Linked DNA regions of Homo sapiens: regions 2, 3, 4, 5, 6 and 7 are each linked to region 1. Evidence: fine-mapped expression QTL. A gene starts in region 1. Each other region holds a variant in brackets. All regions are shown on one strand. Distances are from middle to middle. Region 1 holds the start of ARRDC1 (arrestin domain containing 1). Region 2 overlaps EHMT1 (euchromatic histone lysine methyltransferase 1). Region 3 overlaps DPH7 (diphthamide biosynthesis 7). Region 4 overlaps EHMT1 (euchromatic histone lysine methyltransferase 1). Region 5 overlaps DPH7 (diphthamide biosynthesis 7). Region 6 overlaps EHMT1 (euchromatic histone lysine methyltransferase 1). Region 7 overlaps EHMT1 (euchromatic histone lysine methyltransferase 1).

Region 1 (4,065 bases):
AGGATGGGTGGGAGATAGGGTCAGAATCAAGGATGTGCAGAGTCCTGTGGGGCTTAGATTGTGGCTGACCTGGGATAAAGGCCACCTGTGTTCTGTGTCCATTGTCTTCCATCTCAGTAGCTTGCAATACAGTCTGTCTGTCCCTTGCTTGAAACACTTTCTTTTTTTTCTTTTTCTGTTTTTTTTTTTTGAAATGGAGTCTCACTCTGTTGCCCAGGCTGGAGTGCAGTGGCGTGATCTTGGCTCACTGCAAGCTCCGCCTCCTGGATTCACGCCATTCTCCTGCCTCAGCCTCCCAAGTAGCTGGGACCACGGCGCCTGTCACCACGCCCGGCTAATTTTTTTTTTTCTTTTTGTATTTTTAGTAGAGACGGGGTTTCACCATGTTAGCCAGGATGGACTCGATCTCCTGACCTCGTGATCCGTCCACCTCGGCCTCCCAAAGTGCTGGGATTAGAGGTGCGAGCCACCGCGCCCGGTGAAACACCTTCTTTCTGACTTCTGGCATGGCCGACTGCCATTCGGGAGGGCTGTCCACAATCCTTGCCATCCCATGGCACCCTTCTCTCTTGTTCGGGAATTCTGCCTGTGCATAGCCTTGGCAGGAAAGTGTCTGGAGCATGGCCAGTTAGACCCACCTCCGGAAACATCGGAATCCTAAGGGAGTGAGCTGGGCCTGGGGCTTCAGGGCCTCTCCCAGCCTGGCCCGGGGGCCCCTCCAGCCTGTGAGCCCCTTTCTCTTTGCTGGGGTGCCAGACTCCTCCTCCCTGACCTGTTACCTTCTACCAACTAGGGATGGCAACATTTTAGTGCTTGACTCCCAGGCTCATGCACGGAAGTACTTGGTCCATTGGGGATCAGTGGCACCTCAGACTCTGCATGTGATGACCCTCCCACCCCCAAACCATGTGTATCTAGGTCCGTCCTCCCCATCAGAGAAGGCCACCCTCTTCACCGGCTGTCCTAGAAAAACTCGCAGCACTGGGGCCCGCACACCCACTCCGTGGTGAGCTGGTCCTTGTCGAGCGACGCCTTCCCTCTCCAGGACTACCCAACCGGTCTCTCCCGCCTTAGGTCCCCTGGGTATTTGAGTCCCACCCCCCGCGGCTCACTCTCTACAAAGGGACCCTTTAAAAAAGATAAATGGGAGTGTGTTCCTCCTGGTTTCAAGTGATCCAAGTCCTCGCCCCACCTGGCCCCCGACCCTTCTGCTGCGGACCCCTGCCCAAGGGCCTCCGCCCAAGTGTGGCTCCCTTGGGCCCACACCCCATCAGGCCAGCAAGGAGGGGGATAGCGGGGGGCGGGGCAGGTGCTGGGACTCCGGGCAGGTGCGGGGAAGGCAGGGGGCGGGGGGGGAAGGGGTTGGGCGATGCAGGTGTTGGGGGCCGGGACAGTTGCGGGGGTAGGCAGGTACCGGGAAGGCGGGAGGGCGGGCAGGTTCCGGAGGGGCGCGACAGGTGCTGGGACGCGAGGTAGGTGCGGAGAAGGTTGGGGGTGCGGGGCAGGAGCCGGGGGTGGGGGTTGAGGCGGGGCAGGTCCTACGCGGCGGAGCATCCCCGCCCAGGACGCCCGCGCGGCCCCGTGACGTTTTTCCGCGACTCGGGGTGAGGGAGACCCCTGGGCGGGACGGGCGGAGGGTGGGGGCGGAGGAGTGGGTTCTGCCCGCAGCAGAGTGCAGCGGGGAGACCTTCCCAGTCTCAGAGCTCGCCTCGGCCCCGCCCCCAGCCCTGCCCCCCGACGGAGACGCGGCGGTGACTCCCTCCGTGGGGGACGCACGGGACGCTTGCGCCTCAAGTCCCTTAAGCGGCGCCCGACGCAGCGCAGCACCTACCCAGCCGGGACAGGGCCAGGGCCGGGGATGGATGAGCGCGGCCGGGGGGCGGGGCAGGGGTGGGGCGGCCGAGGCAGGGGCGGAGCTGGGAAGGCGAGGCAGGGGCGAAGGGCGGGGGCGGGGCGAGGAGGCTGTCAGAGGGGCGGGGAATAACGAGGGGGCGGGGCCACACGGACGGATGGGGCGGGGAATAGGGGCTGGGCCGGGCCTCCGAGCGGCAGTCCGCGGGCTACGGGGCGGCCGGGGGGCTGGGCGGGGCCGTGGGGCGGGGCAGGGCCTGGGAGGGGCCGGATGGGGGTGGAGGCCGGGATTGGGACGGATGGGGGCGGGGCATAGGAGGGGGCGGGGCCGGGCCTCGGAGCCGGGACTCGCGGGCGGCGGGCGGGGGCGTCGCTGCGCGGCTGGCCGGTGAGGCCGCGGCATGGGGCGAGTGCAGCTCTTCGAGATCAGCCTGAGCCACGGCCGCGTCGTCTACAGCCCCGGGGAGCCGTTGGCTGGGACCGTGCGCGTGCGCCTGGGGGCACCGCTGCCGTTCCGAGGTGGGCGCGGGTCCTCGGGGAGGGCCTTTGGCCGCACCTGCGCGGGGCCAGGGCTCCCGGAAGCGGCTGCCGTCGCCTGGCCCCGGGTTGGGCCCGCGGAGTCGCTGTCTTCGCCGCCCGGGACTGCTGGGAAGCGGGCTCGGCGGCGCCGGGGAGGTCCGGGCGGCGCCGCCCTTCCGCGTCTGCCCTTCCTGCCCTCTCGCCGAGGGGCGGCGGGGTCCCGGCGGGGCCTGAAGCGGGTCCACTGTGGAGGACGCCCTGAGCGCGGGCGCACGCAGGCCTGCGACCCTCCCCGTCCGCGCTCGCACCTGCTGGGCTCCTTCCCGCACCCTGGCTCCCGGCGCAGGCGCTCCCGCTGCAGAGCCGCTCCTGGCGCGGGCGTGCGGTCCCGGCGGGGTGCAGACACCTGCTGCGGCTCCCTGCGCCCCCTGCCACCCGCCAGCAGGCCTCGCCGGCCCCCCGCCGAGGTGGACGCCTGGGCCTCGGGGACTGGGTATCGGGTTGCTGCAGTGGCCGCTGGCAGGGCGCCCTGGAGGTGAGGGCCGGCCCGCGAGGTGAGGCTGCCTCTGCCCGGCCCTTGGCTGTGAGTGCCGCGTCCCTGCCGGGGACTTCTCTACCTTGGCCTCCTGTGGGAACCACCTGGGCTGCTTGGCCTGTGCCACAGCCCCTGGACTTGCCGCTGGACCTTGACCGCTGGGCCCGCGCGTGGGTAACAGCACCGATTTTGTGCCTGCTGAGAACCCACAGTCTCTGTTCTGTCCTCTCAGCCTCCTGGGACAGGTGATGGTGCTGTGGCCCTGACCCTGCACCGCCTGAGGCTGTGGGGCCTCGGAAGAAGCCGGGTGGTAGGTGCTTCTGTCAGGCTCCTGGCCCCACTGGGCCTCCTGGGATGACCCCACAGCCTCCCTTCCTCTGTCCCAACCTTGAGTTTGGGGTCTGGGTGGGGGCAGGTGTGGCCGTGGCAGGGCAGAGATAGCACACACATCTCTTGGGTACAGGTGTGGTGTGTGGTGAGGCCGGCTGGATCCTGGTTGAGGGCTGTGCAGGACCCTGTCGTCCTTCCCCTGGCGTGGCCTGGGGTGAGCAGGCCATTGCTTACCACAGGGAAGGGACGGCCCCGCGGTGCGTGACTGGCCTGGGTGTGCAGGCTCCCCTGGCCTCCGGGTGGACGTGGTGGGTGGGTTGAATGCTCACGCCTGTAATCCCAGCACTTTGGGCAGCTGGCCCAAGAGCCGAGGGAGCACTGGCTGATGGTCCTACCTCACAGAGGCTGGTCTGAATGAGGGAGAAAAAGGAGGGTCGTGAGCTAAGGAGTAGGAGATGGGCCCTGATGGGCCAGAGAGCACATGATTCAGGCTGCTGCAAGTGAGGTGGGAGGGTGTACCGGGGCCCCCGGGGGTTTCCCCCAGCCCTGCCTGGGATGGGAACAGAAGGACCATGGTTTCTTTTCCTCATTCAGAGGATGCTTGTCAATCCTGCTAGGAGCCAGTAGGGAGGCCCTCAGCCCCCAGGAGGACAGCAGCCCTGCCTGGGCCCCAGAGCTTGCTCACTTACTCTGCCGATGAGTGTCGGTGACAGTCAGCACCCAGCCGTGAGGACACCGGCTGTCTAAAGGGCTGACGCGGAGGGAGGCCTGGGAGGGAGCAGTTTTCTGGAGCTCAGGCTGGCCCAGTCCAGGGCTGGGGTTCAGGCAGG
Region 2 (4,065 bases), 130 kb after region 1:
TGTAAGACCTAAACATATAAAATTCTGAGAAGAAAACATAGGACAAAGGCTCCACAACCTTGGATTTGGCAGTGATTTCTTGGACATGACACCAAAAGTGTAGGTAACAAAAAAAAAGGAGACACACTGGGTTTGATGAGACTTGGTGTCTTTTGATGCACAAAGCTTTCTATCTCCTTGTTTCCCTGTTTCCCTGCTTCTTACTGCTGCACTTGGCTAGTCGTAAAGAAAAGACACTGTTAACGGAATAAAAAGGCACCTGTGGAGTAGGAGAAAATATCTGCAAATCCTATGTCTGATGAGGAATTACTACCCAAAATATACAAAAAAAATCCCACAACTCAACAATAAAAACAACTTGATTAAAAAATCAGCAAAGGAGGCCGGGTGCAGTGGCTTGCGCCTGTAATCTCAGCACTTTGGGAGGCCGAGGCAGGCAGATCACCTGAGGTCAGGAGTTCCAGACGAGCCGAGCCAACATAGTGAAACCCCATCTCTACTACAAATACAAAAGTTAGCTGGGCATAGTGGTGCATGCCTGTGGTCCCAGGTACTTGGGAGGCTGAGGCAGGAGAATCACTTGAACCCGAGTGGTAGAGGTTGCAGTGAGCCGAGATCGGACCACTGCACTCCAGCCTGGGTGACAGAGTGAGACTCTGTCTCAAAAAAAACAACAACAAAAAAAAAACAACAAAAAAAACCCAAAAAAGGCAAAGGACTGGAATAGACGTTTATTCAAAGAAGATGCACAAATGGCCAGTAAGCCCATGAAAAGATGCTCAACGTCACTAATCATAAGGTAAATGCAAATCAAAACCACAGTGAGATACCACCGTACACCTGTTGAGGACAGCAACTATCAAAACAGAAAATGGCACATATCAGTGAGGATGCGGAGAAATGGGAACCCTTGTGCACTGCTGGTAGGAAGTGAAACGGTGCATCTGCTGTGAAAAACTCAAAAAACTAAGTGTGGAACTACCATGTGATCCAGCAGTTCCACTGCTGGGCACGTGCCCCAGCAGCACTGAAAGCAGGGTCTTGAAGAGATGCTTGTACACCCACGTTGATAGCAGCATCAACCACAGCAGCCAAAAGGGGGAAGCCACCCGAGGGTCGGCTGTCGGGCGAACGGATCAGCAAAGTGTCGTGTGCAAAACGCAGTGACGTGTGACTCAGCCTGAGAAGCAGCGAAGCTGGGGCCCGCGCTGCAGCGTGGATGAGCCTCGGGGACACTGTGCCGAATGAAGTAAGTCAGCCACAAAAGAACAAATGTTGTACCATTCCACTTAAAGGAGGTCCCTAGAGTCGTCCAACTGATGGACACAGAAAGAGTAGAAGGGGCTGGAGTCTGGGGCTGGAGGAAGGGAATGGAGAGTTAGGGCTTAATGGGAACAGAGCTTCAGTTTGACAAGATGGAAAGAGTTGTGGAGGTAGATAGGGGTGATAGTTGCACAACATTCTGAATGTATTTAATACCATGGAACCGTGCACTTAAAGATGATGAAGATGGTAAATTTTGTGGTGTGTGTATTTTACTAGTAAAAAAAAAAAAAACAGGCCGGGCGCGGTGGCTCATGCCTGTAATCCCAGCACTTTGGGAGGC[C/T]GAAGCAGGCAGATCACAAGGTCAGGAGATCGAGACCATCCTGGCTAACACGGTGAAACCTCGTCTCTACTAAAAATAGAAAAATTAGCCGGGCGTGGTGGCCCAGGTACTCAGGAGGCTGAGGCAGGAGAATGGCGTGAACCCAGGAGGCGGAGCTTGCAGTGAGCGGAGATCGCACCAATGCACTCCAGCCTGGGCAACAGAGCCAGACTCAGTCTCAAAAAAAAAAAAAAAAGAAAGAAAAAGTAAACTTAGGTCATAAAGCAGTTTGAGTGTCCACACTTGTAGGTTGCTGCTGGGTTCAGTGTCCACACTTGGGTAGAAGCTGCAGGTCCCTGCTTGGTACAGTGTCCACACTTGAGTAGAAGCTGCAGGTCCCTGCTGGGTTCAATGTTCACACTTGGGTAGAAGCTGCAGGTCCCTGCTGGGTTCATTTTCCACACTTGGGTAGAAGCTGCAGGTCCCTGCTGGGTTCATTGTCCACACTTGGGTAGAAGCTGCAGGTCCCTACTGGGTTCATTGTCCACACTTGGGTAGAAGCTGCAGGTTGCTGCAGAAGTTGCAGTGCTTCCCTTGCGCTTTTTTGCTGGTGACCACAGGACATGCCCAGAGTGGAGGCCCTGCCTTTTGCTTTGTGAGCTTGGAGTGTTCGTGCCTTCTGCATAGGTGGGTGGGAACAGTGCCAAATACTGATCCTGAATGGCCTGGGGTCTCTGTGTGGACTTGTCGGGCAGGGAGGAAGGAGGACGGTGTCTCTGATGGCAGGGAACAGTTCTACAGGTGCTGCTGTCCAGGCATGAGGCCTGGACATAGAGCTGGGCCCTGCTCTATGTGACCTGAGGACAGAAGCCCTTGTGAGTGGCAGAGTTGTGGTGGTGACCACGCAGACTGCTGTGTTTCCCGTGCACTTGCTTTTTTCCCTCACTTCCAACCTCCCATCCACCTTGTCTGCCCTCTGGAGCCTGTCGCCTTTCTTCCTTGTCCACACCTCTTCTACCCAGCAGCCCAGCCTTCCTGCAGAGCAGCTGGGCAGTGCCCACCCCCACCCCACGCCCATTTCCACTCCTGGCACTATTTTTCCTGGAACTGTCTGTTCCACACTGTCCTATGCCTGGGCCTCCCCGAGCGTCCTGTGAGATGCCAGTTGGCGAGAGTCTTTGCTCGGGGTCCTGAAGCCCCCCCCTCGCCCCCCTTCTTGATGTTCTCCACCAGGATTCTCCTGTGCCAGATCCCATCTGCAGGGCACTGGCCCCGCTTCTTTGAGGCCTGGACTGCAAATCCTCCTTCCAAAGAGGCCCTCGAGCCTCTTCGAAGCTTACTGCCAGCCGTCCTGCAGTTTTCTTTCTCCTGGCCCCTGATGACGCTGAATCCCAGCCGTCTGGCTCAGGGCCAGACCCCTTCCCTGGACACAGCTGGAAGTCCCCCTGCAGGACTGAAGCGGCTCCTCTTCACACTTCAGCCACGTGCTCAAACACTTTCAGGTCCTTAATAGATTCTACATTTCTGAAAGTCATCCATAGATGTTTCTCTACTATTTAATGTGTAGCAAATTTTATACCTAACATCTGTTTCACACATACAACCTGTCACTCAGTAAGAGGCCCTTAGACACCATTCTTCACTTGTTTGCAGCAGACAGACTTCCTGACATGATTTATTTTATTTTATTTTATTATTATTTTTTGAGATGGAGTCTAGCTCTGTTTCCCAGGCTGGAGTGCAGTGGTGCGATCTCGGCTCACTGCAAGCTCTGCCTCCCGGGTTCAAGTGATTCACCTGCCTCAGACTCCTCAGTAGCTGGGATTACAGATGTGAGCCACTGCACTGGGCCCCGACATGATTTTTTTTTTGTTTGTTTGAGACAGAGTCTCGCTGTGTTGCCCAGGCTGGAGTGCAGTGGTGCGATCCTGGCTCACTGCAAGCTCCGCCTCCCGGGTTCACGCCATTCTCCTGCCTCAGCCTCCCGAGTAGCTGGGACTACAGGCGCCCGCCACCTTGGCCGGCTAATTTTTTATATTTTTAGTAGAGACGGGGTTTCACTGTGTTAGCCAGGATGGTCTCGATCTCCTGACCTCGTGATCCACCCGCCTCGGCCTCGCAAAGTGCTGGGATTACAATAGGTGTGAGCCACTGCGCCCGGCCGACATGATTCTTAAGCACATGAAATGCAGGGTTATCTCCTTTGTCCTCACTCAGCCATTCATTACAGGAGTCAGCAAACTGTTTCCAGGGGACAGGTAGCAAACTGTTTCCAGGGGACAGGTAGCAAACGTCAGCGCCTTTGTGGGCCACACTGTTCCTGTCCCAGCTGGTCATGCTGTTGTCACATTGAAGCAGATGCAGACAGTATGTAGACAGTGGGCATGGGTGTGCACCAATAAAGCTTTATTTATAAACAGGTGCCATGTCCGATTTATGATATTAATAACCATGGGTTACTGAGATGAAATGAGGAAAAG
Region 3 (4,065 bases), 34 kb before region 1:
GGAAGGGAAGCTCAAGAGCAGGGCCCACAGGGAGAGTGAAGAAGATCAGAAGGAAAACGTCTAGGCCTAACCACATCACCCACCCCTGCATCATCCAGCTCCCACTACCCACCCACCTTCCATCCATCTCACCATCTATCCACCCCCCGACCTCACCCTATCCAAAATTCCACCATCCATCCACCCATGCCCCCACCCACCCCCCACCCACCTTCCATCCATCTACCCACTATCCATCCAACAATCCACCATCCATCCACCACCCACCACCCACCACCCACCATCCAAAAATCCATCCATCCACCCACCATCCATCCATCCAGCCAGCCAGTCACTCACCCACCATCCATCCATCCATCCATCCAACAATCCACCATCCATCGACCCACCCGCCCTCCCACCTTCCATCCAACAATCTACCATCCATCCACCCACCACCCACCACCCAAAAATCCATCCATCCACCCCCCGTCTATCAAGCCAGCCAGCCAGCCACTCACCCACCATCCATCCATCCAACAATCCACCATCCATCCACCATCCACCACCCACGACCCACCACCCACCACCCACCATCCAAAAATCCATCCATCCACCCATGATCCATCCATCCATCCATCCATCCATCCATCCATCCAACAATCCACCATCCATCTATCCAGTCACTCACCATCTATCCACGCCACCACCACCACCATCCAAAAATCCACCATCCATCCACCACACACCCACCAACTCATCCACCCACCATCCATCCATCCATCCATCCACACGCCCTCCCACCCACCATCCATCCACTCACCCACTATCTATCCAAACTCTACCACCCACCATCCAAAAATCCATCCATCCAGTCATCCACCATCCATCCATCCAGTCACCCACCATCTATCCACCCCACCACCACCCACCATCCAAAAATCCACCATCCATCCACCACAAACCCACCCACTCACTCATCCACCCACCATCCATCCATCCATCCACCCACACGCCCTCCTACCCACCATCCACCCACCCACCCACCACCCATCAAATAGGTACTTGCTGAACACACACTATGGACCCTCATAATAGACACTACGGATACACAGTGAACATGACCTACAGTTAAATGAACCAGCGGAATCAGCTGACCTAGGCATGAAGCCTGCAGATGAGCCTCAAGTATGAGCTGCCATTCTGTGGCAAATTTGTACAGAGTAGGCAAAGGCTTCTTTATACGTGAGTCTCTCCACTCTCGCATGCCCCACATATCCACTCCATCAGGAAATCTGACTGGATATACCTTCACTTCTATCCAGAACCCAACCACTGGTCCTCACCTCCACTACTCCAAACCTGCTCTGGGCTGTCTCATCACCTGCCCAATGTCAAGTCTCCAGGCTGTGTCCCTCCCTCTTGTGGTCTAGACTCACATTCACCAAAGAGGTCATCGCAAATTTTAAAATGCAAGTCAGAATCTGTCATTCCTCTGCTCAACATCCTGCAACAGCTCCCATTTCATTCTGAGTAGGAAACAAAGTCCTTCCTGGAGCCTGCACGGCCCTGTGCCCTGGCCCATTACCTCTGATTTCA[C/T]CCTCTTCTATTCCGCTACTGCCTCAGGTCATCCTAACCATGCTGGCTACTGGCTACTCTTCTGCCATAGCAGGGCCACTCCTGCCTTAGGACCACTGCCCACCCTGACCATGCTCTCCAACAGTATAATCTGCACCTGCTCCCAGCACCCTTGGTCCCCTCTCACCTCCTTCTACCTTCTTTCCAAAGCACTCATTGCCCCTGACAGGCCATGCAGTCTCCTTCCCTATTACATATTATGCCTTGTGTTTACTGTCTGTCTCCCCGCCACAGAATGTAAGCTGGGTGAAAGCAGGGACTTTTATGTGAAAATCAGCCAGGTGTGGTAACTCACACCTGTAGTCCCAGCTACTCAGAAGGCTGAGGCAGGAGGATCGCTTGACCCTGGGAGGTTAAGGCTGCCGTGACCTGTGGTCACGCCATTGCACTCCAGCTTGGGTGACACAGCAAGACGTGAACCACCCACCCCATCCTCAAAATGTATTTATATAAATAAATTTTTTTTTTTTGAGACAGAGCCTTGCTCTCTCGCCAGGCTGGAGTGCAGTGGTGCGATCTCGGCTCACTGCAACCTCTGCCTCCCGGGTTCAAGCAATTCCACTGTCTCAGCCTCCCGAGTAGTTGGGACTACAGGCGCCTGCCACCATGCCCGGCTAATTTTTTGTATTTTAATAGAGATGGGGTTTCACCATGTTGGCCAGGATGGTCTTGATCTGCTGACCTCATGATCCGCCCATCTTGGCCTCCTAAAGTGCTGGGATTACAGGTGTGAGCCACCGCGCCTGGCCTATATAAATAATTTTTTTAAGAAGGCTGAGTGCAGTGGCTGACGCCTATAATCCCAACACTGGGAGGCTGAGGCAGGTAGATCGCTTGAGCCTAGGCATTCGAGACCAGCCTGGGCAACATGGTAAAACCGCATCTCTACTAAAAATACAAAAATTAGCCGGGCATGGCGGCAGGTGCCTATAATCCCAATTACTCAGGAGGCTGAGGCAGGAGAATCACTTGAACCCAGGAGGTGGAGGTTGCAATGAGCCAAGATTGTACCACTGCCCTCCAGCCTGGGCAATAAGAGCGAAACTCCATCTCAAAATAAATAAATAAATAAAAATAATAAAACTTAAAAAAGAAAGCAGGACTTTTGTCTGTTTAGTTTGCTAAAGTATTCTAATCACCTAGAATAGGGCTCAGCACATAGCATTTGTTGAAAGAATGAATCAGTCCAGAATTATTCAATCATTGCCCTACGGTACCTTTGCTCTGAATTAGCTCAAGGTAGAAGAACCAACCCAAGGAGAGACCTCAAGAAATGAGATCTTTATGGCTCTCAGACGGTTCAAGGCTGTGACAATGAGCAACACAAATAAGAACGCCGCCTTACACACGTGCTCGTCACTCGGACAAGCAGAGGCAGCGTGAGCCACGGCGGAGGTGAGGCCTGCCTGGGGTGGAAGGACAGCTGCTCTGCGTCAGTCTTCTAAGGACAAGATTTTAAGCTGGGCATGTCAAAAAAGCAGAATTCACCCATGAAGGAAACATCCCGTGACGAAACCCTGAGACTGAGGGAATGTGGACTATTTCAGGAAAAGGTGACTGAGAGCATAGGAGCCAAAACAAGGCCGGAGAAGCAGGCGTGGACCAGATTCCACAGGCCTTGGGTAATCGCATCACTATTTTGGATTTTATCCTCAATGAAACAGGAACTGTGAGGGGTTCTAACAATGAGTGAGATGCGATAAAGTGTGTGTGTTTTTAAAACACTTGCTTGGCTACTGTGTGGAGACTGGAACAGTCAGGAATGAAGGCAGGGCCATCACTTGCTGCTCTGCTGTAACAAACTAGATGAGACAGTGGCCCGGATGGGTAGCAGCAGGGAAGGGTCAGATCTTTTCTTCGGCTGTTTGCAAATTCAGCAGCTCCTCTTCTGTCTTTTCTCAGAGACCCGCCCCTCTCACCTGCCATGAGTTATCTCTACCTGGGAAAGAGATGCTAGCCAAAGCTACCTCCTTCCTGGAAACACCAGTTGTTAATTTCTCACTCCCACATCAGCATGCCCCAAATGCAAACCATTCACAAGACCTGGAAAGGAATCTTATTTCTCTCATGCTTCCTTTATTTCTGGAAGATAAACTATATCCAAAAAGGGTGCAGACAAACTTGAAATCCAACATGGCGAAGTCACTATTGTATCCACAGGTATCAGGCAAAAAGCACAGAAACTGGACTTCCAGTAAAAGCATAAAGGATCTGACACCGAGCATATCAGGGAGGCAGGATGGCTCTGCCCACAGGTGCCTGCTCCTCCAACACCCTGGCCAACACCACCCAAGACCCTGCACTGCCTGAGGCAAGCTATACTTTGCTCTCTAAAGAATAAGTGGGCGGGGCAAGGTGGCTCACGCCTGTAATCCCAGCACTTTGGGAGGCCGAGGCGAGTGGATCACGAGGTCAGGAGATCAAGACCACCCTGGCTAACACAGTGAA
Region 4 (4,065 bases), 42 kb after region 1:
GGAGCCACATGAGAATGCACATGGCGTCTGCCTTGTACTTACAGAAGCCCTTGTGTCCTAGTTTTGAGAAAGACAAACAATTACACACTTTGGTAATTGCTATTAAAAGAGATAAACAGGGTGTGATAGAAGCAGCGAAGAGGGGCCTCCTGTAGGTGGTTAAAGGAAGGCTGTCTGTGTTTCCATCTCTGCTGCAGACTGATACACAAGTGTCTTTTTCACTCGATTCCAAATGGAATCTTAGAGAAGGGTTGGCTTTTGTACTTGCAGCGCTGAGTGGAGAGGTGGCTGTGATCTCCAGAAACGTGGCTGCAGCCCCACGTGGGCCTCAGACCCTTGAAACATGGCCATATCGAACTGAGATGTGCTATGTGAAATGCACACTAGATTTCAGAGGCTTAGTACGATAGTTCACACTCTTTTGGTACTAATTATTTTATATTGGTTACATGTTGATAATGTTTTGGATCTATACTGAGTTAAAGGCAATTTATTAAAATTAGTTACTTCTATTTTTACTTTTTTTTTTGAGACAGAGTCTTGCTCTGTTGCCCAGGCTGGAGTGCAATGGTGTGATCTCAGCTCACTGCAGCCTCTGTCTCCCGGATTCAAGCAGTTCTCCTGCCTCAGCCTCCCGCGTAGCTGGGATGACAGGTGCCCACCACCACACCCAGCTAACTTTTTGTATTTTAAATAGGGATGGGATTTCTCCATGTTGGCCAGGCTGGTCTTGATCTCCTGGCCTCAGGTGATCCGCCTGCCTCGGCCTCCCAAAGTGTTGGGATTATAGGTGTGAGCCACTGTGCCTGGCCTATTTTTACTTTTTAAATGTAGATGCTAGAAATTTAAAATGATGTCTGTGGCATTTCCTGTCTTTCTGTGGGACAGTGGTACCTGGCCTGAGGAACATTTCAAGTTTGTGCTGCGGGCAAGAATCCTGTGACCACGGGGAGAGGACGAGGGACTCATTCTCTGGACAATGGGCTGGAAAGTAAGAGGGCTGAATGGGAGCCCCGAGGAGTGCTCCCGTTTTGTGGGAGAGAGGAGCTAGTCAGCAGGTGGAAAGCAGCCTTGGCTGCCCAACCCTGGAGCCTGGGGGAGGCCCCCGAGCGTGTGGGCTGGGGTGGTCTGGGGTGGTCTGGGGGAGGCCCACGTGCATGTGGGCTGGGGTGGCCTGGGGGAGGTGTGGCGCAGTTCTGTTGTTTTCACATCTCGCAAGGCACGTGTGTTGTCATGAGCTCTGGCCGAATTGGAGGCTGGGTTTGATCCCCTCACTGCCGCAAATCTTGTAACGTTGGATGTCTTAACTGATTTTCAGCTTTAACATTATCTCCTACTGTCTTTGAAAACACGGCTATTCATGTTCAGCTTCTTCCTTACCTTTCTGTACCTTAAATTCCAGTCCCTCAGGTTTCCTTCTGCCTGTGCTGTTTCCAGTCCCCACGTGGCTGAGCCCGCTGCAGCAGGCTTTGGTCTCCACTACTCCTCAGATGCCCTTTTGGTTATGGTCACCATTGACCTAGACATTGTCATTGGTTAGTTCTCAGCCTTCGTCTTACTGGTTCTTTCACCAGCATTTGTTATCATAATTCAAGCAAAAAAAACCTGGGATTAGTTGTCTCCGTTTGGCTTCTAGAACACTGCACTCTTCTGGTTTCCTGCCGCCTCCTTCTTCCCAGTCCTGTTTGGAGGACCCGCCTCTTAAGCCTGACTTCTAAATATTGACGTGCCCGAAGTCCCAGGCTGGTCCTCGTGTTGTGTGTGTCCTTATTCCCTGAGCTATCCAGTCCTCTGTTGACCCCAGGCTCGTGCCCCAGGCTGACCTCTTTGCTGTGGCTCCAGGTTGACTCCATGTTGACTGCATGGAAAACTGATAGGCACCTTCTGCCCAGCATGAAACGCAGCTCTCTTGGTCTGCCTCTCGCCCCGCAGCGCTAGACACCATCTGTAGAATGGCATTTCCCAGGAGACGCTGTCGGCTCTACCTTTATGACACAGCTTCTGCACTCCATGGCTGTAATGGGGTCCCAGCTTCTTCTCCCTGCTTTTTGGTGGCCCCTGTGCTCTCTGCTCAGGGGCAGCAGTCTTTGCCAGGCGTTGCTGCTCTGCACGCAGACTTCCTGTGCCTTCTGGGCTCTGCTCTTGCCTTTTTTTTTTTTTTTTTTGAGATGGAGTCTTGCTTTGTCACCCAGGCTGGAGTGCAGTGGTGCAATCTTGGCTTACTGAAACCTCCGCCTCCCAGGTTCCAGTGATTCTCCTGTCTCAGCCTTCCGAGTAGCTGGCATTACACGCGTGCGCCACCATGCCCAGCTAATTTTTTTGTATTTTTAGTAGAGACGGGGTTTCACCGTGTTGCCCAGGCTGGTCTCGAACTCCTGAGCTCAGGCAATCCACCCGCCTCGGCCTCCCAAGGTGTTGGGATTACAGACGTGAGCCACCGCGCCCGGCCGCATCTGTGGACACTTGCTCTCGCTCTCT[C/T]CTGCTTTCTTTTTCTTCAGAGCATTCGTACTCTTTGCATTGACTGTATGCTGGGAAACCACTCTGCCCTTCCTTCCCCATTTGTTTGTTGACACTTTTCTCAAGGAAGAGCTTTCTTTCCCCTTTCATATTTTTTTGGCATTACTATAGAATGGCTCCTGAGGTAATGAATTTGTACTTATTAAATGTGTTAAAATCTATTTTCACCATTTGTCCTTTTGAAACTCAAATTATTCCAATATGGCCAGTGAGAGCCCTTCAAGCAATATTCTGTTTGGGACAGCAAAATCGTAAGAGACCATATTGTATAATCTTCAGCAATTAAATCTGAACACCTAGATGAAATGAACTATACCTGGAAAACCCAAAAGAGTCAATGTTAAAACACAGACAGTGAAATTCAGTAAAGGAACTGGATATAAAATTGATACATTAAGTCAGTAGCCAGCTGGGTTGTGGTGGTTCACGCCTGTAATCCCAGTACTTTGGGAGGCTGAGGTGGGAGGACTGCTTGGGCCCAGAAGTTTCAGACCAGCCTGGGCAACATAGAGAGACTCCTTCTCTCCAAAAAAAAAAAAAAAAAATAGTTGGGCATGGTGCCTCATGCCTGTGGTCCCAGCTACTTGGGAGGCTGAGGCGGGAGTGTCATCAAGAGGTTGAGGTTGCAGTGAACTGTGATCACAACACTGCACTCTAGCCAGGGCATTCGAGCACTTGGAACAGAAGACTTGAACTCTGGAAATACATTTGTTGTTCTTGGACATCATAAACATGTTAGTTCTCCCAAGTTAATGCAAAAACTTATCCTTTATGTCTGTAAAAATGCCAACAAGGAATCATTCTTAGTCCTGCCTTCCCCTCTCAAATTCAGCTGGTTCATCAGAAGATCCCATCAGCCTCATCCTCAGGGTGCATCCCGTTTCCCTGACTTCTCTCCCTATCATGGCATCACTGTTGGGCCCAAGCCACCACAGTGCCCTGCTTGGATTATAGTAGTCACCCTTTAGCTGGTCTTCCTAGTTTTTCTGCTTATGAGCTGTACCATCTTATCCATTTGCCACCCAAAAAGCCAGAGACTGATCCTGGTTGTCGTATCGTGCTTGAGCTTCATCACTGGGGAAACTGGGCATCAGTGGGTTGAGTAGTGTCTTCCCAAATTCACATTCCCCTGTGACTTCAGAAATAGTGTTCTCCCAAATTCAGATCCACCCGTGACTTCAGAAATAGTGTTCTCCCGGCTGGGTGCAGTGGCTCATGCCTGTAATCCCAGCACTTTGTGAGGCCAAGGCGGGTGGATCATGAGGTCAGGAGTTTGAGACCAGCCTGGCCAAAGAGACCAGCCTGGTCAACATGGGGAAACCCTGTCTTTACTAAAAATATAAAAATTAGTCGGATGTGGTGACGGGTGCCTGTAATCCCAGATACTGCGGAGGCCGAGGCAGGAGAATTGCTTGAACCTGGGAGGCGGAGGTGGCAGTGAGCTGAGATCGCGCCATTGCACTCCAGCCTGGGCAACAGAGCGAGACTCCGACTCAAACAAACAAACAAACAAACAAACAAACAAAAATGTCCTCCCAAATTCAGATC
Region 5 (4,065 bases), 43 kb before region 1:
CTAACACGGCGAAACCCTGTCTCTAATAAAAATACAAAAAATTGGCCAGGCAGGGTGGCTCACGCCTGTAATCCCAGCACTTTGGGAGGCCGAGGCGGGCGGATCACGAGGTCAGGAGATCAAGACCATCCTGGCTAACACGGTGAAACCCCGTCTCTACTAAAAATACAAAAAAAATTAGCCAGGTGTGGTGGTGGGCGCCTGTAGTCCCAGCTGCTCAGGAGGCTGAGGCAGGAGAATGGCGTGAACCCGGGAGGCGGAGCTTGCAGTGAGCCAAGATCCCACCACTGCACTCCAGCCTGGGTGACACAGTGAGACTCTGTCTCAAAAAAAAAAAAAAAAATTTGCCGGGCGTGGTGGTGGGCACCTGTAGTCCCAGCTACTCAGGAGGCTGAGGCAGGAGAATCGCTTGAACCCGGGAGGTGGAGGTTGCAGTGGGCCGAGATCGTGCCACTGCACTCCAGCCAGGGCAACAGAGCAAGACCCCATCTCAAAAAAAAAAAAAAAAAAAAGAAAAAAAGAAAATCACCATTTTGCCATTACCATAATTTATTCAAGCACCAATTGTCTCTGAATTGGGTAAAAGTCTGAAAAGGGAGTTATTGACACAGGTTCAAAGATTCTCACCACAGATTACTGATTAATCCCAAAGAGGAAAATAGTATCTCTTCAGTGAAGGGATTGGGGCAAACACCACCTTAACAAAGTGACCAAATTTCACAAAAATGGAACAATGTGGCATCATAGGCCCTTGATGTGAGGAACTAAGGAGGGCACAGCGCCACTTTCACAGGTTTCCTGGCAAAAATGCACGACCCCGGCCAACATGGTGAAACCTCGTCTCCAATAAAAATACAAAAATTAGCCAGGCGTGGTGGCAGGTGCCTGTATTCCCAGCTACTCGGGAGGCTGAGGCAGGAGAATGGCGGCGTGAACCCGGAAGGTGGAGGTTGCAGTGAGCCAAGATAGCGCCACTGCATTCCAGCCTGGGTGACAGAGCGAGACTCCATCTCAAAAAAAAAAAAAAAAAAAAGCATGACCCCATACCAAAGACTCGCCTCAGACTCAGGTGTGAACTGAAAGAGAATGAAAACGATGCATCACGCCACACTGAAGTGACTTTACCAATGCCAGACAAAACTGACTTTAAAACAAAAAATGTTACTAGATTTAAAGACAGACACTTTATATTGATAAAAGGGTCAGCACATCTGGAAGATACCAGAATTATAAACATATATAAAAGAGATCCCCAAAATACGTGAAGTAAAAACTGATGGAAACGAGGCTGGAAATACATAATTCTACAGTTAGAGTTGGAGGTAGCAATAGCCCACTTTCTTTTATTTTTTTGAGATGGAGTCTCGCTGTGTCTCCCAGGCTGGAGTGCAGTGGCGCGATCTCGGCTCACTGCAAGCTCCGCCTCCTGGGTTCACGCCATTCTCCTGCCTCAGCCTCCCAAGTAGCTGGGACTGCAGGCACCCACCACAGCGCCTGGCTAATTTTTTGTATTTTTAGTAGAGACGGGGTTTCACCATGTTAGCCAGGATGGTCT[C/T]GATCTCCTGACCTTGTGATCTGCCCACCTCAGCCTCCCAAAGTACTGGGATTACAGGCGTGAGCCACCGTGCCCAGCCAACAGACCACTTTCAATATTGCCCAGACAGGAGATTCAGTAAGGAACCAGAAGATCTGAACATTATAAAGCCGAGACCTCACAGGCACCTACAGGGCACTCCAGCCAACAGCAGCAGAACACACGTCCGCAAGTGCACAGGGGCACTCCCCAGCAGAGACCACACTCTAGGCCACAAAACTAATCTCAGTAAATTCAACAGGAATGCACAATGGAATAACATTAGAAATCGGTAACAGAAAGAAATGTGGGCACTTAAAAACATGTACATTAAACAACACACTCATAAATAACCAATGGTCGAAGAAAAAAACCACATGGGAAATTAGAAAGTACCTTGAGATGAATGAAAATAAAAATACAACATACCAAAATGTATGGGTTGCAGCAAAAGCAGTGCTCAGAGGAAAATGTATCACCATTAATAAAGAAAAAAGACCTCAAATTGTTTTAAGATGAGAAATATTATGGCTGGGCATGGTGGTCCCAGCTACTCGGGAGGCTGAGGTGGAAGGATGGTTTGAGCCCAGGGGCTGGGCACGGTGGCTCATGCCTGTACTTTGGGAGGCCAAGGTGGGCGGATCACCTGAGGTCAGGAGTTCAAGACCAGCCTGGCCAACGTGGTGAAACCCCGTCTCTACTAAAAATACAAAAATTAGCCAGGCGTGGTGGCACAAGCCTGTGATCCCAGCTACTCTGGAGGCTGAGGCAGGAGAATTGCTTGAAGCCAGGAAGCAGAGGTTGCAGTGAGACGAGATCACACCACTGTACACCATTCTGGGTGACAGAGCAAGACTCCATCTCAAAAAAAAAAGATCTCAAATTGTTTTAATACAAGAAATATTATGGCTTGGCATGGGGGTCCCAGCTACTCAGGAGGCTGAGATGGGAGGATGGTTTGAGCCCCAGGAGGTTGAGGCTGCAGTGAGCTACAATTGCACCACCACACTCCAGCCTGGGTGACAGAGCAAGACACCATCTCAAAACAAAACAAAAAACGATGAGAAATACAAAGCACATTCACAGAACTAACAGAAACAATACAGAAGAGATGGAGAAACTAAAGATGCAAAACACAGAGGAATACAGGCCAGGCACGGTGGCTCACGCCTGTAATCCTAACACTTCGGGAGGCCAAGGCAGGCGGATCACGAGGTCAGGAGTTCCAGACCAGCCTGACCAACATGGTGAACCCCCCATCTCTTCTAAAACTATAAAAATCAGCCAGGCATGGTGGTGGGTGCCTGTAATCCCAGCTACTTGGGAGGCTGAGGCAGGAGAATCGCTAGAACCCAGGAGGCGAAGGCTGTGGTGAGCCGAGATCGCACCACTGCACTCCAGCCTGGGTGACAGAGCAAGACTCCGTCTCAAAAAAAAAAAAAAAAAAGAGGAATACCATGCGGAAATCGAGTCAATCAAGTCCTTGAGTACAATCCAGTGCAGAGAAGAAACTGGCCTTGGGAACAGGTGTGGGTCACCCACCGCTGCAGAGGGCAGAGAGCATGTGGGTGGCCCGAGAGGCTGGTGGGCTTAATGGTGGGAAGATGAGGTGGTTTTGTGATTGCTTATTTTTGGAGTGAGGGGAGAGAGAAGAGGCGAAAGAGGAGAGATCATGAGCTGCAAGTCAGGAGGGAAGAGGAGGTCCTGGAGGTTTGAGCAGAGAGAAGAAAATGTGAACCAGTTCTGACAGTGGGGGATTACTGCCTAGAGAAATGTTACAGATCACCAGGAATCCCAGGGACCTACTAGAACACAACGTGGACAGCTGATTCCAGCCACGTTCTCCGGCTCAACCAGAATCAGAGGTGCTTGTTCCCAACAAAACAACACTGGGTTCTGCCCAGAGTGTGAGAAAGGGATGAAGGGAATGGAGTGTGAGCTCACAGGGGGCAGCAGACCACAGAGTCCCAGCTGACCACAGGCAGGAAGAGCATGGGAGAGCACAGACAAGGATGGTTATGGGAGTGATGGGTGGCCAAGCCTCCAGACTAGAGGTCCCAGTGGGGTCAGAGGTCTGCCGAAATGCAGGAGGCACCGGAATGACGGAGCTGGGAAACCAGGGAAAACTGTGGTTAGAGAGCAGAGATTCTGGAGCTGGGACAGTTATGGATCACGACCAAGTCTAGGGCGCGACGCTGGGAGTGTGTAAAAGCTGAGGGAAGAGCCCAGCAGAGCAAGGGAGCAGGGAGCTGAGGGAAGAGCCCAGCAGAGCGAGGGGGCAGGGAACTGGTGCCCTGCCCTGAGGCCCAGCAGCCACGGGTCCCCACTCACCCATTGCCTTTTGGCAGTTGAGGATCTTAAAGCCACTGTGCATGCAGGCGGCCAGGAGCAGGTGGTGGTGGAAAGGGTGCCACTTGATTCTCCATACCCCACCCTGCACAGGCGTATCTGCCAACGGCTGCTTCATGTTTCGTGTGTCCCACAGTAGGATG
Region 6 (4,065 bases), 160 kb after region 1:
GTCTTAGCTGCACATTGTGGAAGTAAGTGAGCTGTGAACAGGACAACCATCCGTGTAGCAATGCTGGGCATTATTCCAAGCCTTTTGCGTAGGGCGCTCCTCCAGGTCCACGGCAGCCTGTGCAGCATCGGCCGTCGCCCAGGTGATACAGGTGAGGCCCGTGAGAGGGGCCAGGTGGCGCCTCCAGACTCACTGGCCTGCTGTGAGGAAGGCAGGAATGGGAGCCTTGTTCCAAAGGTCAGGCCCGACCGCTGTGTCGGGGAGCATGGGCAACACCCGGGAGGAGCGGGCAGAGCCCTGGAACAGGCCAGTCAGTTTCGCCCATGGCCCTCACCCTGGTGCCTGTTGGCGTGGCCGGGGTTTCTGATTCAGCAGGTCTGGCCTGGCTGGGATTTTGCTTTTCTAAAGTGTTCCCCGTTTCTCCTGATGCTTCTGGTCCAGGGACCACACTTTGAGAACCACTGGTTCGCCTCCTCTTCTCCTTCTCCGTAGGTGTTAAACAGGATCCAGTGGAGTCAGATCCCCGTGTGACACGTGCTTCCCTGTGACTTTTCTCTCTGTATCTCCACGTTTCCGGTGCACATGCCTTTACTCAGACTCCGACACTGGCGTTGCTTTTGTCTCATCCCAGCTAGGCGACGTCTGCGTCAGCGCCTCTCATCTGTGGCACGTGTGCCCAGCGGGCTCCCTATGTGACGGCTTTTCCCACCTCTGAGTGTTCATGTCACTCGCTGCATGTTCTGCCACACTCGGCCCCTCTGCAGAGCCTCTCACTTGTTTCAAAAGAACTTTCCATAGTGACAAGTGAGGGCGCAGTTAGCCTTTGGAACCCTCGACTCGGCTCCTCTGTCACCAGCGTTCTCTCCCACCCTTCTTTCTTGGTTTTGAACTACTTACTGTTTTAAAACAAACCCCATTTTACTACTGAATAGCACAGTGTGTTTCTATTAAGATCAAAAATGGACCATTGTCTCACATAACAGCAATGCTTTTCACATGTAACAAAAATAACAATTTCCTGTTATTATTTAGTGCCTAGTCCATGGTCAAAGGTCTGTTGACAAAATGCCTTTTACTTTTTTTCTCTCTTTCTAATTGGATCCAAACTGGTTCCACTCATTAAATCAATCTGCTGCAATGTCTCTTAAGTCTTTTGTGTTTCTTTCACCCAGAACATTCTCTCTGTCCCCTGCTTCTTCCCATTTGCCACGCTGTTGGCTAAAAGAATCTGGATTCCAGATTCTGGACTTAGCTCATAACTTTCTTGTGTTGTTTAAGTCATTTGCCTTAGTTCCTATAGCCTGAAAGTTAGATTCAAAGACTTGGTTTACATTCAAGTACCTAAGATTTTTATTTTATGATTTAATTCTGGCGAGAATGCTGTGGAGGTTCGTGCGCTGGGAGCGGTGCTGAGAAGGCTCTGGGTTTCTGCGGCGGCCGCCTGTCCGCCCGAAGGCGGTATTGTCCTTGGTGACCACTGCCTGCATCCATTGTTTCATTCAAAGTTTCAAAATGGTGATTTTGCCATTCTGTCATTCCTCCTGCAAGTACAGGCTGGAATTCTTTGGTACAGAAGAACTTCCCCACATCTGCTAGGGCTGTTTCGTACCTCTGAAACAAGCTTCAGCCGGGATTGGCAGAATAAATAGCTACTTGTCTTTGCAGAGTAATGAATGGGTGCTCTAACAACCTCTAGTGGTATCCGGAGGGCTTGATTTTGCTTCTCTCTGTCCCCTCTCCACCTCCCTTTCTCCCTTAGCATTCTTAAGAACTCATGGTCTTCTCTGTATTCAATGTGTGGTAAGCTTTTTTTGTTTAAAATTAAACACAGATCCCTTGGGCTCTCACTTATTTTTTGGATAGAAAACTCAAAATAATAATAAATTAAATTAAATGAAACGTAGATCCCGAAGACCA[T/C]ACAAAACAAACATTGGGCTGAACAAACCAACTTCAGCTGAGCTCTGGTAAACACCGCCAAGGTGGAGAAGCGGAGCCTGACCCCCCAGCCCCACTCCCCTCACTGCCCCACTCCCCCCGCCCCCGCCGCCCCAGCCTGTCCCCGCTTGTGTTCTTCCCGGCAGCCCCGCCCAGCAGCCTCTGTCCCGACTCCCACAACGCCCACTTCCAGGGTCAGTTTCACTGTTTAGGTTTGTAGCTTCCCCTGTGGCACTGCTGCCCATCTGTCCTTCAATTTCTATATTGTTCTCGGTCCCTTCTTTTTCTTTCAATGTGTCTGTTGAACAACCCAGGCTGTTGGAAGCTTCGAGGCTCCCATAGTCTGGATTCTGTGAATCCCACACTTAGGTGGCAACTCAGCAGGTTCCTCTGTGTTTCTTGCAAAACCTGCCAAGGCCGGGTGCAGTAGCTCATGTCTGTAAAATGGGAGGTCGAGGCAGAAGGATTGCTTGAGCCCAGGAGTTCAAGACCAGCCTGGGCAACATGATGAAACCCCATCTCTTAAAAAAACTTAAACAGCCTTACAAGTTTGGCCCCTTTGTAGTACTCTTGAGTGTGGGGAGGGTTTAGCCCAAAATGAAGGGCCATGTTGTCTGGCTGTCTCACTTTCTCTGATATTGGCAGCTGCTGATGCTTAACACCTACATTTGTTGTTTATTCATTGGAGGTTTCAAAATGGTGCTGATTTTATCATTTATTATTCATTGTTCACTGGAATGGTTTTATAGAGAGACATATCTCAGGCCAGGCACAGTGGCTTATGCCTGTAATCCCAGCACTTGGGGAGGCCGAAGCAGGCAGGTCACTTGAGCTCAGGAGTTTGAGACCATCGTGGCCAACATGGGGAAACACCATCTCTACTGAAAATACAAAAAGTAGCCACTTGTGGTGGCGCCTGCCTGTAGTCCCAGCTACTTGGGAGGCTGAGGCAGGAGAATTGCTTGAGCCTGGGAGGCGACGGTTGCAGTGAGCATCAGTCGTGCTGCTGTTCTTCAGCCTGGGCGACAGAGTGAGACTCCGTCACAAAAACAAAAACAAAAACAAAAACTACCTGTTTTGTTTTAAAGGCTGTGTTGTCTGATATTAACATAGCTACTCAGCTTTCTTTTGATTAATGTTTGCACCGTACGTCATTTTCTACACTTTTGCTTTTAGTCTGTCTCTGTCTTTAAATTTAAAGTGGCTTTCTTGTAGACAGCATGTAGTTGGATTTGCTCTTTTAATAAAGAAAAATTTTGCTTTATTTTATTTTTCGAGACAGGTTCTCACTTGGACCCCCAGGCTGGAATGCAGTGGCTCTCATTGCAGCCTCCACCTTTGGGGCTCAGGTGATTCTCCCAGCTGAGCCTCCCGAGTGGCTGGGACTACAGGCATGCAACACCACGCCCAGCTAAGTTTTAATATTTTTATTTTGTAGAGATGGTATCTCACTATGTTCCCCAGGCTGGTCTCGAACTTCTGGGCTCAAGCTATCCACCTGCCTTGGCCTCCCACAATGCTGGGATTGTAAGTGTGAGCCACCGTGCCCAGCCTACTTTTATTTTTTAGAGATAATGTGCCACTCTGCTGCCCAGGCTGGAGTGCAGCGGTGCAGGCAGAGCTCGGTGCAGATTCAAACTCCTGCACTCAAGCAACCCTCCTGCCTCAGCCTCTTGAGTAGCTGGGATTGGAGCTGCCACCATGCCTGGTGGTTTTGCCCTTTTATCTAACATAGTCACGTGCTGCGTAACAGCGTTCAGCCAACGATGGACTGTAGCTGTGAAGGTTGTAATACAGGTTGATGTACCGTATCTATGAAGGTGGTCTGATAAGGTTACAATACAGGTTGAGTATCACTTACTCAAAATGCTTGGGACCAGAAGTGTTTTGGATTTCATTTTGGATTTTGGAATATTTGCATTATACTTACCAGTTGTGCATCCCAAATTCAAAAATCTGAGAGCAGGGTGAGGTGGCTCACGCCTATAATCCCAGCACTTTGGGAGGCTGAGGTGGGTGGATTGCTTGAGGTCAGGAGTTCAAAACCAGCCCGGCCAACATGGGGAAATCCAGTCTCTACCAAAAATACAAAAATTAGATGGGCGTGGTGGCGGGAGCTTGTAATCCGAG
Region 7 (4,065 bases), 35 kb after region 1:
CAGTATGACTTACGTGTCCTCATAAAAAAAAAAGGATGCCTTGTGAACACAGACATGCACAGAAGGAAGACAGCATGCGGACACACAGGGAGAAGTGGCGCATGACTGGGGTGATGCTTCCATAAGCCAAGGAGTGTCAGGGACGGCCAGCAGACCCCAGAGCCTGGCCGAGGCAGGGGATGGCACTCCAAAGCCATTACAGACCACAAGGCCTACTGACACCTTCATTGTGGACTTCCAGCCTTCAGAACTTCGAGACCATACATTTCTATTGTTACATGTGTCCTAGGAAAAAACAGGCTGCTTCCTATAAATGTTGATATGTTGTATTTTCATTTTTATTCAGTTCAGAATATTTTCTATTTTCCCTTGTGACTTTAGAAGTGTGTCATTTAATTTCTAAATATTTAGGTATTTCCTGGATTTCTTTGTTTTGTTGATTTCTAATGTAATTCCTGTATGGTCAGAATTATACTTTGTATAGTTTCAGTGTGTTTAATTTGTTAGATTAAAAAAAAAATCCCGTATTATATTCTGTCCTGGGGAATGTTTCATCAGTGCTTGAAAATAATGTGCATTATGAATTTATTAGGTGGAATGTTCCCTATATGTCAGATTGAATTGGTTGATAGTATTAAGTCTTCCTTATTCTTTCTCATTTTCTTTCTAGTTCTATTAGTTATTGAGAGTAGAGTATGAGATCTACAGTACTGTCGAATTTTACATTTTCACTTTCAGTTCTGTTGGTTTTTGCCTCGTGTTTTGAGACTATGTTATCTTGCGTGTGTTTATAGTTGTTACATCTGCCTGGGTGTTTTGACACTTCTCTCATTATGAAATGTCCCTCTTTGTCTCTATAAATGTTTTTGTTTTAAAGTCTATTTTGTCTGATGTCAGTATAGCCACTTCAGTTTTTTTATGGTTTATTTTTGCATACTATATCTTTTTCTGGCCTTTTAATCTCTTTGTATCTTCAATCGAAGGGATGTCTCTTACAGTCCTTTCCATCTGAGATCGGATCTTGTAGATTCAGCAGTTGAATCATATATATGTATTTTTCTTACCTGATAGAAGAGATTTTATTTTTAAAGTGTCACCTTAGACTGCAAGGATGTCTGTTGTACCTCCCCATTAATCAGCCAGAGGAGGAGCTGTGATATCAGAATGCCCACTCAACCCACCAGACATTTGAGACCCACCCTTTGCTGGCCTTCTGTAACCTTATTTATTTAGAGACGGAGTCTCGCTCTTGTTGCCCAGGCTGGAGTGCAATGGCGCGATCTTGGCTCACCGTAACCTCTGCCTCCCGGGTTCGAGTGATTGTCCTGCCTCTGCCTCCCGAGTAGCTAGGATTACAGGCATGTGCCACTGTGCCCGGCTAAGTTTTATATTTTTAGTAGAGATGGGGTTTCGCTGTGTTGGCCAGGCTGTTCTTGAACTCCTGAACTCAGGTGATCCGCCTGCCTCGGCCTCCCAAAGTGCTGGGATTACGGGTGTGAGCCACCGTGCCTGGCCTGTAACCTTATTTTTTAAAGCTTTTAATTTTAATTTTTGTTTTGTTTTATTTTTGTGTGTTTTAGAGACCTGGTCTTGCTGTTACCCTGGCTGGAGTGCAGTGGCGTGATCATAGCTCACTGCAGCCTTGACCCTGGGCTCAAGCAGTCCTCCCACCTTGGCTTCCTGATCAGCTGGGACCACTGGCATCTGCCACTATGTCCAGCTAATTTTTAAATTTTTTGTAAAGATGGGGTCTTCCTATGTTGCTCAGGCTGGTTTTGAACTCCTGGCCTCAAGTGATCCTCCCATCTTGGTCTCCCAAAGTGCTAGGATTACAGGTGTGCACCCCTGTGCCTGGTCTGAAATTTTCTTTTTTTAATCAAGAGCAAGTAGATACATGTTTTCTCTGAGCCCAATATGCAGAGAAGGAAAAAATGCTAGAATTCTCTGCATTATAGGGGCCTGGCGCCCTTTAGCTTCCAACAGTGCAAAGGGGGCAGAAAGTTGTTCTTTTTTCCATAGAACATGGTGATGTTGATTCCATACAAGTTTGTTGAGATAGGAAGGGATAAAAATGAGTTTGAAACAGAAAGAGGTAGAGATTCTTTTCACATTTTATTCTCCTCAAGGTATTTCCCCCCCAGATAAGTTGAGATCCACGGTGTAGACAAAAGAGACCTCAAGAACTGGGTGAGCACAAGAGGGAAAAAGCAAGACTGC[A/G]CCTTGCTCCCGGGAACTGGAGACAGCTTTAAAAAAGGAAGGTTCTAATCCATGTGTGTTCTATTAGTTATCTTCTCCTTATCCCGTTCCTCATCAGTGTCTTCCAGTTCCTCCTCCTCATCATCTTCGTCTTCTCCTTCTTTATCATCCATATTGGGAACCAAGGAGCACTGTGATGAATTTGGCCAAGTATGGTCTTTGCTGACCTCTCCTAACTCATCTGCACCTGCGTCAGAATGGCCAGTAAACCAGGTGAAGAACCTGTCTGGTTCCTCAGGATGCCTCTTCCTACTGGCTTTATTCTGCATTTGACTTGAAGAGTTTCCTTTCCAGATTTCCATTTGATTTCCGTGGACTTTGAAGATGGATCATGACTCTCATTCAGATGAAATTCTTTGAGAGAGCTTTATTTTTGAAGTAAGGATTTTCGTCAAAATAAAAACCTATTCTGTAACCTGATTTAATATCTTCAAATTCTGTCACTTCAGCACTGGTCAAACAATGCAGTGCCTCTTCATCCTCCTCCCAAGCAGTGCAGACGCTTGTGGATGGCTGACAAATGTTATTACCCAGAAATTGGGGATTTTGGGAATCAATTCTCATCTGCCCTGAAGAACGTGGTTGGCCGAATTTGTCTATGTTCGCTCTCCCAGTCCGCTTGCCGCTCACTTGCTAAGCCTGTTTCTGAAGCCTGTTTTGTGCTGTGCTTCCTCGTGGGCTTGGTTGCCGCTTGTTCTGTTCCTCTCTTCCTCTGGCCTCTGTCAGGGGCTGGCGCCATGTCTTCCTTTCAGGCAGGGGCAGAGACGGGTGTTTGGGGGTCATTCCGGGAGGAGAGTCTGGACCCAAGGGCCTCCTTGCTCATCAGGAAGAAGCTCATAGGACTAAGATCACATTTTTTTTTTTTTTGACATGGAGTCTCGCTCTGTCACCCAGGCTGGAGTACAGTGGCATGACCTTGGCTCATGGCAACCTCTGCCCCCATGCCCTCCAACTCCATGGTTCAAGCTGTTCTCCTGCCTCAGCCTCCTGAGTAGCTGGGACTACAGGCACCCACCACCATGCCTGGCTAATTTTTGTATTTTTAGTAGAGACGGAGTTTCGTCAAGTTGGCCAAGCTGGTCCTGAACTCCTGACCTCAGGTGATCCACCCGCCTCGGCCTCCCAAAGTGCTGGGATTACAGGTGTGAGCCACTGCGCCCGGCCCCAAATTTTTTAATCTATTCCCCCAGTCTCTACTTTTCATGTGGGACAGGTAATGCGTTTCATCTAATGTAATTACTGAAAGGTAGGGTTTATACTTGTCGATTTTGTATTTGCTTTCTGCGTCTTCTGTCTTTTTTGTTACTTTCTGCCTCAGTTAGTTTTTGTTCTTCATGGAGATGGAGTTTCACTATGTTGCCCAGGCTGGAGCGCAGTGAGTATTCATAGGCATGATCATAGTGCACCGTGGCCTTGAACTCCCGGGCTCACAGGATCCTCCCACCTCAGCCTCCTGAGTAGCTGGGACTGCAGGCGTACCACAACGCCTGACTCATTGCTTTCTTCTTTTGTGTTAGATATTTTCTAGTGTATACCATTTTAATTCCCTTGCTGTTTATTTGACTGTATTTTTTATTTGTTTTCTTGGTTGTCCTGGGGATTACAATTTAGTATATTAATTTTTGATAATGTAGTTTGTATTAATACTATATTACAATACTATATGAAATATTTATTTGGGCATAGCTTAATTTCTTTTGCCCTTCTTGTACTGTTATTGTCATACAAATTACATTACACTGTGTGCCCATCTACGCAGATTTATAGTTGCTGCTTTACGCAATTGTCTTTCAAATCATATAGGAGAAA

The links.
Region 2: its variant is fine-mapped to the expression of ARRDC1 in whole blood (INTERVAL, PIP above 0.99).
Region 3: its variant is fine-mapped to the expression of ARRDC1 in whole blood (TOPMed, PIP above 0.99).
Region 4: its variant is fine-mapped to the expression of ARRDC1 in whole blood (TOPMed, PIP above 0.99).
Region 5: its variant is fine-mapped to the expression of ARRDC1 in whole blood (TOPMed, PIP above 0.99).
Region 6: its variant is fine-mapped to the expression of ARRDC1 in whole blood (TOPMed, PIP above 0.99).
Region 7: its variant is fine-mapped to the expression of ARRDC1 in blood mononuclear cells (TOPMed, PIP above 0.99).

What each region holds. Positions count from the first base shown.
Region 1 is chr9:137,603,466-137,607,530 of GRCh38, forward strand. ARRDC1 (arrestin domain containing 1) reads left to right here and starts at 2,221. Exons shown (of 8, transcript NM_152285.4): 1 at 2,221-2,370. The coding sequence starts at 2,253. It overlaps LOC124902318 (a long non-coding RNA gene), which reads right to left and starts at 1,873. Exons shown (of 3, transcript XR_007061885.1): 1 at 1,832-1,873. RefSeq lists silencers at 1,483-2,612, 2,623-2,892.
Region 2 is chr9:137,737,531-137,741,595 of GRCh38, forward strand. The region is part of intron 4 of EHMT1 (euchromatic histone lysine methyltransferase 1); the gene reads left to right. Among named protein-coding and RNA genes, the nearest start is that of MIR602, 99 kb to the right of the region's middle. RefSeq lists enhancers at 550-809, 3,613-4,065. The variant C/T (reference allele first, on the strand shown) is at 1,607.
Region 3 is chr9:137,569,119-137,573,183 of GRCh38, forward strand. The region is part of intron 5 of DPH7 (diphthamide biosynthesis 7); the gene reads right to left. Among named protein-coding and RNA genes, the nearest start is that of DPH7, 7.8 kb to the right of the region's middle. The variant C/T (reference allele first, on the strand shown) is at 1,579.
Region 4 is chr9:137,645,448-137,649,512 of GRCh38, forward strand. The region is part of intron 1 of EHMT1 (euchromatic histone lysine methyltransferase 1); the gene reads left to right. Among named protein-coding and RNA genes, the nearest start is that of EHMT1, 28 kb to the left of the region's middle. RefSeq lists an enhancer at 1,857-1,926. The variant C/T (reference allele first, on the strand shown) is at 2,479.
Region 5 is chr9:137,560,530-137,564,594 of GRCh38, forward strand. It overlaps DPH7 (diphthamide biosynthesis 7), which reads right to left. Exons shown (of 9, transcript NM_138778.5): 8 at 3,905-4,065. Among named protein-coding and RNA genes, the nearest start is that of MRPL41, 11 kb to the left of the region's middle. The variant C/T (reference allele first, on the strand shown) is at 1,556.
Region 6 is chr9:137,763,635-137,767,699 of GRCh38, forward strand. All of the region lies in intron 10 of EHMT1 (euchromatic histone lysine methyltransferase 1), which reads left to right. Among named protein-coding and RNA genes, the nearest start is that of MIR602, 73 kb to the right of the region's middle. RefSeq lists an enhancer at 1-741. The variant T/C (reference allele first, on the strand shown) is at 1,918.
Region 7 is chr9:137,638,720-137,642,784 of GRCh38, forward strand. The region is part of intron 1 of EHMT1 (euchromatic histone lysine methyltransferase 1); the gene reads left to right. It also overlaps the pseudogene SETP5. Among named protein-coding and RNA genes, the nearest start is that of EHMT1, 22 kb to the left of the region's middle. The variant A/G (reference allele first, on the strand shown) is at 2,218.